Linked DNA regions of Homo sapiens: region 1 is linked to region 2. The links come from fine-mapping of genetic effects on gene expression. Tissue or cell type: whole blood. Region 2 holds a variant in brackets; the other region holds the start of a gene. All regions are shown on one strand. Distances are from middle to middle.

Evidence for each region. PIP is the estimated chance that this variant, and not a neighbour inherited with it, causes the effect.
Region 1: it holds the start of TAS2R20, and the variant in region 2 is fine-mapped to the expression of TAS2R20 in whole blood (INTERVAL, PIP above 0.99).

The regions. Positions count from the first base shown.
Region 1 is chr12:10,993,472-11,001,582 of GRCh38, reverse strand. TAS2R20 (taste 2 receptor member 20) reads left to right here and starts at 3,279. Exons shown (of 1, transcript NM_176889.4): 1 at 3,279-5,622. The coding sequence starts at 3,708. The coding sequence ends at 4,637. The region is part of intron 3 of PRH1-TAS2R14 (PRH1-TAS2R14 readthrough); the gene reads left to right. The region is part of intron 3 of PRH1-PRR4 (PRH1-PRR4 readthrough); the gene reads left to right. It also overlaps a transcript of PRH1 not described here.
Region 2 is chr12:11,154,421-11,162,531 of GRCh38, reverse strand. All of the region lies in intron 1 of PRH1-TAS2R14 (PRH1-TAS2R14 readthrough), which reads left to right. All of the region lies in intron 1 of PRH1-PRR4 (PRH1-PRR4 readthrough), which reads left to right. It also overlaps a transcript of PRH1 not described here and the pseudogene TAS2R18P. Among named protein-coding and RNA genes, the nearest start is that of SMIM10L1, 13 kb to the left of the region's middle. The variant G/A (reference allele first, on the strand shown) is at 3,344.

The DNA of each region.
Region 1 (8,111 bases), 160 kb after region 2:
CACTTTGCTTCAGAGTTGTGCTGAAGTTTTGAGGAGGATGGGAGGAGGCAAGGAGGTGTCCAGTCCTTTGTGCATCTATCCCCTGGCATTCTCCCATCCTGCCCCAAGTCATCAGCCCACACAGGTTGCTGGCACATCTAAAGTGAGAATTTTAGGACTAAATAAATCAAATAGAAGTAAGCCCTCACATCTTCTATATCTCACCTGATAGTGAAGAAGTTTGAAGGTACAGAGCTCCACTTCTGCTAATAAAAAAAGAGTAAAATTTAATTTGTAAAATAGAATGGTGTAGCTAGGGTTGAGGTGCTATAATTTATTTATTGGAATGGCATCTTGAGATCCAGCACAGCTCATTGAATTTCCCTGTGGGGAGAGTTTGTGGTGAAGACTCATCAACAGACAAGCTGCTATCCCCCCCTAAAAAAAAAAGCTACTAACATCACATCAATTTCCAGGTTCTTCCAACTTGCGGAAGGATGTGTAGACCAAGCTTTTATTCTATTTTGTGACCAAAGTCTTGGGAAAAGAAGAAAATTGTTAGCATTTTCATGTCAAGCATACGAAAAACAAAAAAACAAAGCCAACCAACTGAACAAAGAACCCAACTTTTTTTAAAAAACTTGGTGGTAAGAGTGCTTTGTTCTGCTTCTCCATAGATAATGATTTATAGAAGGAGAACAAAATATAATTTCTGCTACTAAAACAATAATAGCAAAAAATAAATAATCAATATTGAGAATCCAATAGACAGAGTTAACAACCAGTTAGACATAGAAGAGAGAATTAGTGAATTGGAAGACAACTATAAAGAAAGAAGCCTAAAGAGACCACAAGACAAAGAATGCCAAGCTAAGAGGATAAGAGGCATTGATGCTACAATCAGAGCATCTAACATACTTCTGGATTTCTGGAAGATTAAAAGGGATAAAATAGGGCAGAATCAATGTTGTGGAGATTTTCCCAAAAGTGATAAAATGTATTAATCCATATATTTTTAGTAACCATCAAAGGTCAGACAAGATAACTAAAAACAAATTAACATAAAATGTCACAAGACATCAAAGACCAGTAGAAAATCTGAAAAGTAGCCAGAGGAAAAGATAGATTATTTTAAAAGGAACAACTTTCTAAATGACAACCTGATTTTCAACAGAAAAATGGAAAGTAGAATTCAATGGAATCATGTCTTTAGTGTGTTTCAAAAGAATAGAGGACCTTCATAAACAGAAATCCAAATGATATTTTTCAGATAAAAAATATTGAAAATACAAGGTTAAGCATGCAAGAAGGAATAAAAATTAACAGAAATGATAAATATGTGCATAATTCTAAATGAATGTTGACTGAATAAAATAATAGCGTCTTGCTGAGTTAAATATATTATTGATAAGATATATGCAAATAGCGATAAAGAGACTGGAGGTAAAGGTGACAGGAACAAATTTAGATAAATTATTTTTTGCACTTTTCTATGTCTGTGAGGATAATTTGAACACCACATTTAATGACCCCATAATAGGAATTGCATCAAATGATATGTGAAATAATGCTGATAGTAGTATTATTCATAATAGCTCAAAAATAGACTGCCCAAATATATATTAACTAAGGATGATTGAATGATATGAAAGATTACAGTAAATCCATACAGTGGAACAGTATATAGAGGTGAAAAGAAATGAATCACATGTACATGCAACTATGTAACTAAATTTCAGAAACATGATATCTAGTGCAAGAAGCCATGAACAAGAAGAACACACAGGACTGCACCTATACACAGTTCAAAGCAGGACAGACCAAGCTGTGGAGTTTAGGGTTGTGAACCTAGCTGGTAAAGTATAAAGAAATTCAAGCAAATGATCATCATAGATTATGAATATTGCTTATCTCAGGAGATGTGAATAAAGGTTTAGGGGCTTGGAAAGTGGCCTGGAAGTGGACCTAGTCTGTTTGCAGTGTTCCATGTCTTATCCTGCATGATGGTTACATAAGTGTTTATGATACATTGCTCTTACCTATTTTTGTTTTGGCCCATTTCTAAGTGTGCATTATAATTTTATTTAAAAAATTACAAATTGGGAGAAATGTCACGTAAAAATTATTAATTGCTCTGCTCATTATATACCTAGGGGGAAAATCCACCATTTACGTACATTCTTATACAACTCAAGAGAGCTAAAGTGAATTCTTATTTTAGTTGCAAAATGGAGAAATTTGAGATGCTGTTACCTACAGCCTCCAGATCTTTCCAAAAGTTTTCTTCTAGTTTTAGATATTCACCTCATATTACAAAAACTTTGATATTTCCAACCTATTTTTCCTTTGGCTCCTGAATTTCTGACACAACAAGGGCGCACATATTTCTCAAACTCTTGGATTAGCAGAGTACCTATATCACTTAGCTTTTTCTGCAAAAGAAACTTCTCCAAAACCACATTAGATATTTATATCTCACATGTTTTTGGATTCTGTTTTCTTAAGCTGGGGTTTGGTGGATGGCTCTGGTGATTTGAGATGGTCCAAGTTTTGCCTCTTGGATCTAGTTAGAGTTTGGCCGATTTAAGGCTGGATCAGGCAGGAGCCATATGATTCCATGAGTTACTCATTCTTATTCTGGGAACAGTGTGTTAGTGTGGACATGTTCTCATTATAAACCGGAAAGGAACAAGAAAGCCTAATGTGGAGGTCATCTCAAATTTCGATGTAAAGTGTAGTAATTTTCTGTTCATCAAAGCAAATTACATGATCGAACTCAGAGCCCTAGTGCAAGGTTGTCACTATGCCTGTGGTGGGAGGACACTGCAAAATTATGTGACAAAGGTCTGGTACTCAGGAATGTTTACAAGCTTGCAGGTAGCATTACCAAAAGCCTAAGCATGAGAGATATGTTTCATGAATATTATTCATTGGCTGAAAATCTGGCATGGGAAAAATAGGACTAATTCCACCAGGACGAGCTCCTGGAAACTCATTTTCCATGTCATAAGTTACAAGAAAGCAATTCCTTCCATCCTTGAAGAGTGAAAGTGTGTGTGTGTCTGTGTGTGTGTTTATGAGCTTGTTAATAGTGATGCCATATAGAAGTATTGGTTAACAGCAACCAAATTATAAGGAGTATTGGCTTTCCTGTGGTTTCCAAGAAAATCTTAGGTGATTTTGATAAAAAGTTTAGATTCTGTGTATTTAAATCTGGCTTTAAAAATAAATCCATAGTGATTTTGATCCTAGATTTCACCAGGCTCTTTTAACAATATATTTTTTGTGTCATCTATGTACTGGGTATTAAAATTTCCCCAACAACTGAAGGGCTGAACACAAATTATGGAAAGGTGAAACAAGGAAAAAATTGCAAAGCAATGAAAGAGGATATGTCTTTATTTGAATGCTAGCAAATGAGAATTCAGCTTTCCCTTCAACATCAGTATGAAAAATTTCAGCCTATAGCAAGAATAGAGACTTTATGAATAAGAATTAATTTGAGTTGTTTTGGGACTAACAGTATTTCCCATAAAGGCAGCATTGAACTCATTCATTAGTTTAAGCTGGTGCTTTTCTGTTGACATTGTTCACAGAATTTAAAAGTATAAAGAATGTTATTGGACATTCAGGAATCAAGTGCATATTTAACTTAAAGTCTTGAATATCAGAGGAGTCACCATCAGTGACATTAGGCCTGAATTTTTTACTTGCTTTTTTGTTTAGACATGATGAGTTTTCTACACATTGTTTTTTCCATTCTAGTAGTGGTTGCATTTATTCTTGGAAATTTTGCCAATGGCTTTATAGCACTGATAAATTTCATTGCCTGGGTCAAGAGACAAAAGATCTCCTCAGCTGATCAAATTATTGCTGCTCTGGCAGTCTCCAGAGTTGGTTTGCTCTGGGTAATATTATTACATTGGTATTCAACTGTGTTGAATCCAACTTCATCTAATTTAAAAGTAATAATTTTTATTTCTAATGCCTGGGCAGTAACCAATCATTTCAGCATCTGGCTTGCTACTAGCCTCAGCATATTTTATTTGCTCAAGATCGTCAATTTCTCCAGACTTATTTTTCATCACTTAAAAAGGAAGGCTAAGAGTGTAGTTCTGGTGATAGTGTTGGGGTCTTTGTTCTTTTTGGTTTGTCACCTTGTGATGAAACACACGTATATAAATGTGTGGACAGAAGAATGTGAAGGAAACGTAACTTGGAAGATCAAACTGAGGAATGCAATGCACCTTTCCAACTTGACTGTAGCCATGCTAGCAAACTTGATACCATTCACTCTGACCCTGATATCTTTTCTGCTGTTAATCTACTCTCTGTGTAAACATCTGAAGAAGATGCAGCTCCATGGCAAAGGATCTCAAGATCCCAGCACCAAGATCCACATAAAAGCTCTGCAAACTGTGACCTCCTTCCTCATATTACTTGCCATTTACTTTCTGTGTCTAATCATATCGTTTTGGAATTTTAAGATGCGACCAAAAGAAATTGTCTTAATGCTTTGCCAAGCTTTTGGAATCATATATCCATCATTCCACTCATTCATTCTGATTTGGGGGAACAAGACGCTAAAGCAGACCTTTCTTTCAGTTTTGTGGCAGGTGACTTGCTGGGCAAAAGGACAGAACCAGTCAACTCCATAGATTCACAAGAGGTGCATTGTGTGTTTTCTAGCAGAAAACAAATTGATGGTGTCTGGAACATTTTATATTTCCCACAAGTTTTTCCGTAGTCTATGTATTTGAGTAATTTCCAAAAGTTGACATAGAAAAGTCTTTTACCTAAGTTTATTATATAAAAGTATATATATATAATATACATTTGCGTGTGTGTGTATGTCTGAATGTATATGAAAATTTAATATTTACCATAACATACCTTTAATCAACTTTTCATATAAACTGTTCAGTTATACCAAAGTAGGATAAGAAATTTCTCAGAATTATGAACCCATGTGTATTTCACACATTTTTTTATATGATATTTCATTTGAGGAATTTATGATCTCTATTTATAATTAAGAACTGACAGCTTATATCAGAAAATCATTGCTGTTTTTCGTTGTAAAATCATTGCTGTTTTTCGTTGTAATTTGTATCACGTATATGTACCATAGTGTGTTTAACTGTTTAACTATCATTGTTTGAACCTCTAATTTTTTGGATGGTAAGGACATTTAATTCTAAATCGATGAGAATGTGTCTTTGGGGTAGGTTTTTTTGTTTTTTTTTTAATCATGAATTCTTTTTTTCTTTTTTTTGAGATGGAGTCTTGCCCTGTTGTCCAGGCTGGAATGCAGTAGCACAATCTTGGCTCACCACAACGTTCACCTCTGGGGTTCAAGTGATTTCCATGCGTCAGCCTCCTGAGTGGCTGGGACTCCAGGCATGCGCTACCACACGTGGCTAATTTTTTGTATTTTTCTTTTTTTTTTTAGTAGAGATGGGGTTTCACCATGCTGGCCAGGCTGGTCTCGAACTCTTGACCTCAAGTGATCCACTGCCTCAGCCTCCCAAAGTGCTGGGATTATAGACATTCATGATGAATTCTTATTTTATGTTTAATATAAAGCAAATACAATTATTGTTAGATAACAATGCACAAAATAAAATTCAAGGGTGAAAAATATATCTAGTGTACATTTTTATGTGTATCAAAAGCAATACTGAGGAATATTATATTTAATATAGTATGTTAATAGCTTAGAAAAAATCATTTCTATAAAAAGGATGAAGAAACATGATCATGAGCTCTTTTCAGTGCTGTTATAAGTTTCCATACGCAATTAGAAAAGTCATCTCTTCCAGTTTTTGAATTAAACAAAAACCTTTTTGAAGTTGAGATCTGATGTTATATATTTCAGTTTTTTGTCTAAGCCACCTCTGAGCTCCTGAATTGTCAATTTCCTCCTTTATCTTCCATCCTTAAAATTCCTCAAAAAGCTCAAATTTTCCTTACTTTAAAAAGAAGCTCAATCTAAAGAGGGTATAGAAACTATGGCATCTATGAAATCTATATATTAATGATAGGAAATGTCTTAAAGATATGTTTTATTATAATCTTGGTGTAAATAATGAAATGAGAGAAAGTGTGTTGACATATTCACTAATAGCAAGTTCTATTACAAGAAGAAAATGTATAACCTAGTTCAACAGCTAAATTCTGTGTGACTGTATTAATTTCTGGTGTTATGCAATTTTAACAATATTATCTAAACCTTAAGATAAATCATCTCCACATCTGATTTGTTTGTTTATCATATATCTTACCTGGTACAATGTAAATACCATAAAAGTAGAGATCATATAGATCTTGCTTACTGTAGACTCCCAAGACATAAAGATAGCACATAGAATAGGTATTGAAAAATGATACTTTGATGAACAAGTTAATTGGTGAATGAATGAATATGAACTATATTGGGGTGGTGAACCAATGAAAATGTAACACATCACAAAATCTACAGTTGGGTGCACATTTCTGTTCTGGTTTCAGATTGAAGTTACAGGATTATCCAAGAAGAAGAAGAATTTCTCAGAGCAAAAGTTTGGCTATTCCACAATTCTAGGGGAAATATCACTATAATATAGCAGTGATGCAGCTATATCAGATGTGTGACACAAAGACAAAGTGGAAAATAAAAAGATGGCATTTATTACAATACTTTTTACTAAGCATATAAAAGATTTTTGTATAAGTGCACATATCTTTTCTATTGCGAATGATATATTTATATTGTGGTATTTCTAGCTGGTTATTATATAAACAAAAATGACATTTCATTTAAAAAATTTAGTTACCAACTATCTTACTAAAATATAATCTTTATTTAGTATTTTTAATATCCTTTCTAAATGACCACTTTAATCACCATATTATAAACTGATGGAAAAATGAATGAATAATAATTATAACACTGAATGAATATCTTATCAGGGGTCTAGAAGTAGAGCAAATGTCTGATATTAAAGTGATGACATTTATTTGGAAGGAGGTCCACTGCAGAAATGGCTGGGACATGTGGAAATTGAGTCAAGAGAAGATGTGACACTATGTGCTGTAATGTGTGATATGACTCTGCTGACGACCACTTCACAATGATGTGAGAGAGACAGCATGGTGGTTATCAGATGCATGCACTTGGCTCCCAGGACTTTTTCAGAAGGGCTGCGAGAGGACAACACAGCCAGCATTAGCCCATGGAAGCAACAGAGGACGGAGAATATATCTGCTCAGCTGTCTTCTGTCTTCTATTTCCCACTGGCCAGGGTTTCCCTGAGGCAGAACTACCATCTCTGCTGTTCTGCTTTCCATCATCCAATCCCTTGATGGAGGTTATGAAAGTCAGACCTCATGCCCACAATGTGGTGATCCATTCAAGTCCCAAATGGAAGGGTGATGTGGGTCAGGCAAGGTGCTGACCAGGGGAATAGGAGACAGTCAAGTAAATCTGAGGAAGCACATGTTTGTGTCCCATGCAGTCCACTCCTTGTGCCATTCAGATGTGCTCATGCCCTCCAATCATGGCTGACTATGAGCATATAATTTCCACTGTTGCACAGGGTCTTGTGCTTAGAGACGCACACGCTTAGAAGGGCTTTATACATGGGTTAATTTTCTGCACCTGCTGTTTTGTTTTTGAGACAGAGGGCACTCCTCTGCTAAAGAGGGAATGGTCTTGCACTAATTGGCTAGGGGTTTGCTCTCCCCTCTCCTGTGGGCTTGTGAGAAGCATGCACAGAGTCTTATAATGCCCACTATGCATGCATGCCTCTAGCGGGTTTGAATTCTGCTGGATTATCTGTCACAATGAGCACAGCAGCTTGGACTAGAGCCTACATTTGCTAGAGGCATTTTTTGTTCTAGTTCCACTTGAGACCAGTAGCCTTTGGCAACTTCATTAGTGAATCAGAGCAGTATCCTCAAATGTGGAATACGTTGGCTCCCAAATCCCAGTAGGCCCAACAAATATTGTGTCTCATTTTTAGTGACAGGAAATAGATGTATAGAGAGCAACATGCTGTTTACTTTAAAAGGGTGTTTCAGCATGTGGACTAGGAGCACTGGACCCCTAAAATCATCATCTATGTTATAGGTCACTGAATCTTCTTGTTCAT
Region 2 (8,111 bases):
CATTAAAGTCTTATGTTACATCAGCTTAAAGTTCAGGGCTTCTGAGTGATAGACAGTTCTGTTTACCACTTCCAAATGTAGTCCCTCATGGTCTGGGAATAAATGAAAACAAAAAACACAAGATATATATATCTTCACTTCAAAGTATAAAGTGGATGATTAGGGGCAGGCTGACTGGCAACAATAAACTCCTCCCATTTAGAAAGAAAACAGGAGGAATACAATGGTAGATTGGCCATAGCAGTGACAAACCTTCCTTGATAGGCTATGTGGAGTCGCCTGCCCTGGATTTACAGGGAAGTTCCTGATTAGTCCCTGTGTCTGGACTCTGGGAGAAACTCCCTTATCCATCATTTTCTGAGGATCCTGGCTTTACCCTCTGGATGTTCTTCATTATTATCCTCCTTGGCTGCATCTGAAAAGGATGATGAGAAGGGTACCTTCCTGGAGAAGGTACGTATTTCAAGTCTTTTCAATAATGCAAGTTTGGAAGCCAGAGAGTCATTTTAATATCACATATTTAATTAAATCACTCATAATTTATTTGACAAATGCAATATCCTCAGCAACATATAAAGTTTTTAATCTACTTGCTTCTGGTCAGTTCCATCTTACCCTACAAAAATTTCCAAAATGGTTGTCCTTACACAAATGTTTCATGTCTGTATAAATAAGAAAATAGATAAACATTTTTCCCTTACTTATCCCAGGCCTCTTTCTTTCACTTTGGTGGCAGTTATCTTGAAGGCATTCGAAACAATGGTCTCTATGTTTAATTGAAAAGTCTTAATGGGCCTCTTAATTTTTTTTTCAGTCTCACTTATTGCTGTTTGATACCCCAAACCGGTGAGATTTTATACCCCTCTGAAACCTTAGATTTCTGAACTCTCTCTTGCTCTTAATTCTTATTTGCAAACCAGTCAATTCTTTTCCTTTCTCATCTTCTCATAATATCTTGCTAAAATATTTTGGAGAACAACCCTGGCACACCGTTTTGACTTTCATCAACCACTTCCCCTAGGGCCAGAGACTCATTAAACATGGCCTTCTTCTAAGTTATTGCATATAATGTTTTTAAAAAGTTTGCTTATACACCACATGTGCCATCGTGTTGCCAGTCTCCAAGATCTGTTCCTTCACTATCCAAATCCTCTAAACAAATTCTCCCACTTTCAGTTCCAATTTCTGTGTTAGACTGGGTAGACAAACTGCATCACAAATAGCTCCAAAATGTAAAACGTTTCAAACAATATGATTTAATTTTGTTCTTTTAATGGTACTGATATGTCTGAGTAACCTTCCCTATGTAGTTATTCACTAAAATAGGCTGATCACTTGGTGACCTTTAACACATAGCTTCCAAGATTGCCTTGGGGTCACCTTATTCCAGGCAGCCAGGAGCAGAAAAGGTGCATGGAGGAGGATGCATGGCAAATTTTTATGGGACGGGCCTGGAAGTAGTGCACATAATTTCCACTCACATTACATTGTTCAGCTTTTAGTCACATTGCATCTGTAAGAGAGGCTTGGAAATATAGTCTATATGCTTAGAAAAAAGAGTAGAACATGAAATTTAGGACATGGAAGTTGGAGAGTGCATTTTGCTTAAAATAGCCATACAAATGTGAAACAAAAAAGTTCCTGCCTATAGATGCATGGTATAGCTTGTTTATGTCACTTTTGTAGTTTGAAAGTGCCCTTAAACCTGTCTTGAATATTAGTTCTTTTCTTCTTTTTCATAAATTCTAAAGAATTCCAGGGCCAGGCGTGGTGGCTCACACCTGTAATCCCAGCACTTTTGGAGGCTGAGGCAGGAGGATCACGAGGTCAGGAGTTTGAGACCAGCCTGCCTGGCCAATATGGTGAAACCCCGTCTCTACTGAAAATACAAAAATCAGCTGGGCGTGGTGGTGCTCGCCTATAGTCCCAGCTACTCGGGAGGCTGAGGCAGAAGGATCGCTTGAACCTGGGAGGCGGAGGTTGCAGTGAGCTGAGATTGTGCCACTGCAGTACAGCCTGTGTGATGGAGTCTCACTCTGTCTCAAAAAAACAAACAAACAAACAAACAAACAAAAATTCCAGTTCAAACTGAATGTCCCTAACCTCAGAGAACTATAGTCAATTCTTCACTGAAGCATTTGTATCTTCCTCGTCTTTAATTCTGGTATATTTTGTTTATTCTTTTTAGCTCCTGTAACATTGCATACAAATTATTTATATTAATAGTTTTAGGACTTGGGTGAAATTCTTGAATTATGAATAATTTTAGGGACTTATTTCTATAAATCATATTGCATCAACAAAAATGCTTGGTATGTAGAAGGATGTTACTGAATGAGAGACAAATAATTACTGAAATAAATGTTATTTCTAACAATTTCTATTCAAAATTTAAGATATTTGTATTCAAGTGGTATGGCTCAGGGGAGATGAAAATGCAAATTAGTGAAAAATGATCTCTCATTTTTGCATGTTTACATACTCGACTTCGCTTCTTTAGTCATTACCATGAATGGAAAATTGTGGCTGATGCTGAAGATAAATAGACATCATTAGTGTTTGTTCTAGAAATTATATAGTAGCTGACTGAAAGTGGTAAGAAAGGTATTCATGAAGCTTTGTATCTCTTAACAATTTGGTTTAGTACCGGAGTTACAATATAAATAGAACAAACTATTTTTTTCATGAAGATCTCTGAACATATATCTGAATTTGGCTATGCCTTCTGAAATTGTGATGAAAACATAGATAGAAAGCATCATAAATGCATGCCCATCTGCAACTGTTTGACTATAAAGCTGTCAGTGAAGTAGAATATCGGAAATATTTTCATAGAAATGTTCGTTGGAATTAATATTTTCTTTCTGGTGGTGGCAACAAGAGGACTTGTCTTAGGAATGCTGGGAAACGGGCTCATTGGACTGGTAAACTGCATTGAGTGGGCCAAGAGTTGGAAGGTCTCATCAGCTGATTTCATCCTCACCAGCTTGGCTATAGTCAGAATCATTCGACTGTATTTAATACTATTTGATTCATTTATAATGGTATTGTCCCCTCATCTATATACCATCCGTAAACTAGTAAAACTGTTTACTATTCTTTGGGCATTAATTAATCAGTTAAGTATCTAGTTTGCCACCTGCCTAAGCATTTTCTACTTGCTTAAGATAGCCAATTTCTCCCGCTTATTTTTTGCCTGGCTGAAGTGGAGAATGAACAGAGTGGTTCTTGTGCTTTTCCTGCGGTCTTTGTTCTTATCGTTTGTTTACCTTTTTATGTCCAATGCCATTAGTGAGTTGTGAAAAAAACATGACTTTGCACTCAGATACAAGTAAAATAGTCT[G/A]TCTTCAAGGCCTTAGGCTTCTCAGCTTGACATACGTTATTCCCTTTCTTCTGACTCTGACCTCTTTGCTCCTTTTATTTATATCCTTAGTGAGACACACCAAGAATTTGCAGCTCAACTCTCTGGGCTCAAGGGACTCCAGCACAGAGGCCCATAAAAGGGCCATGAAAATGGTGATAGCCTTCCTCCTCCTTTTTTTTATTAACTTTATTTCCACTTTAATAGGAGATTGGATCTTCCTTGAGGTAGAGAATTATCAGGTCATGACGTTTATTATGATGATTTTACTTGCCTTTCCCTCAGGCCACTCATTTATTATAATTTTGGGAAACAACAAGCTAAGACAGAGCTCCTTGAGACTACTGTGGCATCTTAAATTCTCTCTGAAAAAAGCAAAACCTTTAACTTCATAGACAAAATTTAACTTTCTGCATCTATGAAAGAAATAACTTAATAGAAGACCTCATAAGTTAATTTTATATTTAACAATTTCTTTTTTGGAGTCCTTTTAAGTGTTGTTAAATAATTCTGAAATTTTCCTTAAAATATTCACTAACCATATTTTCTCAAAGTTGCCGGACATAATGTCTGATTCAAGGAAATGTCTCTACTATAATAATGCCTGCTAATAACAATAGAGTATGTGAGACTTGGAGAAAAAGATAAACATTTATAATGGAATATAAATAAATGCACATATGATATACAAGGCAATATGAATAAATATATATAAAATCACAGAAAAAAGTGTAATGTAATTTTTTGAACAAAAAATTATAAATACAGTAGGGAAAAAATTATAAAATGTTAAGTATAATTAAGTAAGTTTGTTAAAGCATAATATATATCAGTGTAATGCTTGGATATGTTTGTGGATGTGTAGTGCTACTTTGACTACTGTAATAAAATAACCCAGATGTAATCACAGTAGCTGGGAATGTAATGAAGCAGTTAAGAGAATTTTGCTTGCAAATGATGTTACTAAAATATGAAATGAAGATCATGTATTATTTTAATAGAGGAAATGGATATGTCCATATGAAAGAAAAAAAACCCAGCACTGTTGTTTGAGGTAACTTTTACCATAATTTTAAAAATGGAATAAAGGGAAAAAATAGCTGGTAAATCATGGGAAGTATGTTGGTTTTATATTAGTCTTCATGAAGTAGTAGGTGAAAATATTCTTCCAGGTTAAGCCCTGATGCAGAGAATGGTGTAAGAATGATAAGGCCATAGGGAAGAATTGTTGTTTTCTCCAGACAAAATGAACTCTTCCATTCAGGAAATTAGAGTGAGGTCACATCTATCACATTTATCAGGTAGGGTTCTCTCATTTAGCTATTAATATCATCATCACCACCACCACCACTATCATCATCATATATTTCATTTAACTATTTGTTTTTTAAATGTTTACATGCACGATTTGGAGAATGTCTAGGTAATTTCCTAAAGATTATTATTGTGGGTAAGTTGCATTATTAAAGAGCAAGGCTTATGTGAAACTTAATACATTTAGAGTTAGAAGTTGAGTGTATTTTTACTTAAAATGCATTGCTTGAACAAATGATTTATAAATAATCTTAAACTCATCAGAGGCTAACTACCAGAAATATTTAGTTTTTAGTGTAAATAGCATTTGTATAATAAGAGAGATAAAGTCAATAAACCATTTTATAATTAAACTCTTATTTCAAAAGAGAGGCTTTAAAAGTCAATGAACCAAACAGAAATAAGCCCTCACATCTTCAATATCATACTCTCTTGATGATGGACTTGTAAGGCACAAAGCCCCATGTCTAACAGTGTAAGGAGAGTAAAAGGACTACTTAAATATTAAGCCATGTTATAAGATGGTGTTGCTGTGATTGATGTATTATCTTTTATTTATGGTAATGGCATTTTGAGATCAAGTTCTGCTCCTTGAATTTTCATGTAATAAGAGTCTGTGGTGAAGATGCAGCAACAGAGAAGCTGCTACTTGCATCAAATTTATTTTTAGTTCTTTTCAACTTGGTTAAGAATGATTAGACTCACACTTTTATTCTATTCTTGACCAAAGTGTGGGTAATCCCAGCACTTTGGGAGGCTGCGGCAGGCAGATCACGAGGTCAGGAGATCGAGACCATCCTGGCTAACATGGTGAAACCCCATCTCTACTAAAAATACAAAAAAATTAGCCGGGCATGGTGGCGGGTGCCTATAGACCCAGCTACTCGGGAGGCTGAGGCAGGAGACTGGTGTGAACCCAGGAGGCAGAGCTTGCAGTGAGCCAAGATCGCGCCACTGCACTCCAGCCTGGGTGACAGAGCAAGCCTGCGTCTAAAAAAAAAAAAAAAAAAAATTGGTGTTTTCTTTGACCAAAGTGTGGGTAAAAGAAGAGAATTATTGGTATTTTCTTGTCAAGTTTACTAAAAGTTTTTAAAAAATCTTTAAGAATTTGGTATTATGAGTATTTTATTTATCCATAGAAATAACTTACAGAAATAGAGTGAAAGTTTCTTTCTACCACCAAAATAATGACTGAAAAAATTAATATTAAGAATTCAATATTTAACAATCAATTAGATTTAACAATCAGTTAGAAATGGTAGAATAAAGAATTAGTGAATTGGAAGATAACTACACAGAGTGAAGCATAATTAGACAAAGAGATGGAAAAATACAGGCTAAAGGGGAAGAGCATTGAGGCTACAGTCAGAAAGGCTTAACATACTTTTGGAGTTCTGGAAGATTAGAAGAGAGAATGTAGGGAAGAAGTAATGTTGCTGAGACCTTTCCAAAAATAATAAAATGTATCAATCCATACATTCGAGAAACCAACAAACCTCAGACAAGATAACTGAAAACAAATTAACATATAAATGCTACAGGAAACCAAAGACCAATAGAAAATTTGAAAAGTAGCCTGAGAAAAAAGATAGATTATGTTGAAAGGATCAACTGTTTGAATGACAACTGATTTTCAGCAGAAAGCATGGAAGCTAGAATTCAATGTAATATATTTTCAGTGCGTTTCAAAGGAGTAGCAGACATTTCATAAACAGAAATTCAAAAGGATACATTTTCAGATAGAAAAAAGTTACTGAAAATACAAAGTTGAAGATGCAAGAAGGAATGAAAATAAAGGCAATGGCAAATGTGCGTAACTAAAAGGACTATTGACTGTATAGAACAATAATATCTTGTGTTAAAAGAGGTAATGAATAAAATGTATGCCAATAACATATAGACTGGGGTGAAGGTGAAAAGATTAAATTTAGTTTAATTATTATTTAACCTTTTCATTGTCTGTGAAGAGAGTCTGAGTATCAAATTCAATGCATATACTCTAGCTATATATCCAAGAGAAGTGCATTGAATGACATGTAAAATAATGCCCATGGTAGTATTATTTGTAATTGTTCTAAAAAGAAACAGCTCAAATACCTATAAATTAAGGAAGGATTAATAATTATAGCAAATTCATATAATGGAACAATATAGAGAAATTGAAAGCAATGAACCACATGTACATGCAACAAAGTGGATACATTTTATCAACATAATGCTTAAAAAAAGAAGTCATAAACAAGAAGAAAATATATTAAGGTTGTATTTATAAAGAGTTCAAAAATGAGGCAAACTCAAATCAATTTCTGCAATAAACGAATCATCTTGAAAATTGTATTTACAACTTCACAACTTCCTGTGTTAAAGTCAGGAAATTTTCTTTCTATATGTCACATAAAATTCTAGTTTTGATTTTTAACAACTGACCTAATTGGTTTCTAATGTTCTAGAAAAGACTTATAATCATTTTTCCAGGTTTCTGTACCTTCTCTGGTTCTCTGGTTTTCAAGTGAGAAAAGCTACACCTAAGCACCCCCATGAATTATACTGGAAAGTTTTCCACCTCTCTTTTTTGAGCAGAGATTTAGGAAAGTTGGCATTTGGATCCAAGTGACCCAAGCTTTAGGGCAGAATGAAAATTGCAAATCAGTGCAAGTTACTTTTTCTCCTATTTGCATGTAATCAAAGTTGAATCCAGCCCTTCAATCAAAATTACAGATCGAGTGTTACTGCCTGGGATTGGCAGAACTGTTTGATAGGAATGAAAATGTTTTTATGTTAATATAAAATTTGTGCCCACATGTATGAAGGATTTTTCTATTAAAACTCTACAATTAAGCAGAAGATGTGACACACTGCAAGAAATATGGCACCATGAAACTAACTACAACTGTATACTATTGGGGCTCAGAAAATGATACTGAAAATATATCGCTCTTTGACTAAACAGGAAGCCTCAAATTCTCTGTCTGAAGTTTTCCCTTCTGTCTGTGTCTCTGATCCTCTTTCCTGAAGCACCAGAGGGAATTCTCTCTGGAATTTCCTTATCTGATTAAGAAAATTTCTTTCCAGAAGAAATGCAATTTTTAAAAGACTCCTTGTCTAGGAATCTCATCAAATGACCAGGATAAGATACTGGATCAAATAACCACTGGATAAGATACTTGGAGTTGTCAATATGCCTAGACAGACTTTTCAGTTGTTCTTTTGAAGGCAGCTCCAAGAGATTCCCTGGGTGACTTCATCTGCATAATAAGACAACCTTTGTTCACAGTGAAGTTCTGGCCCTAACCTTCCCTCCACCTCCCCTAGAGCTCAGAGGAAATTTGTCCTAGGCCATTGCTCTTTAGATTATGCATTTCCTCTGGAAATCATTTATTCTTACATCCCTTGCTTTCCTCTCCCCAATTAAGAGTATACTTAAGAGTCAATTGTC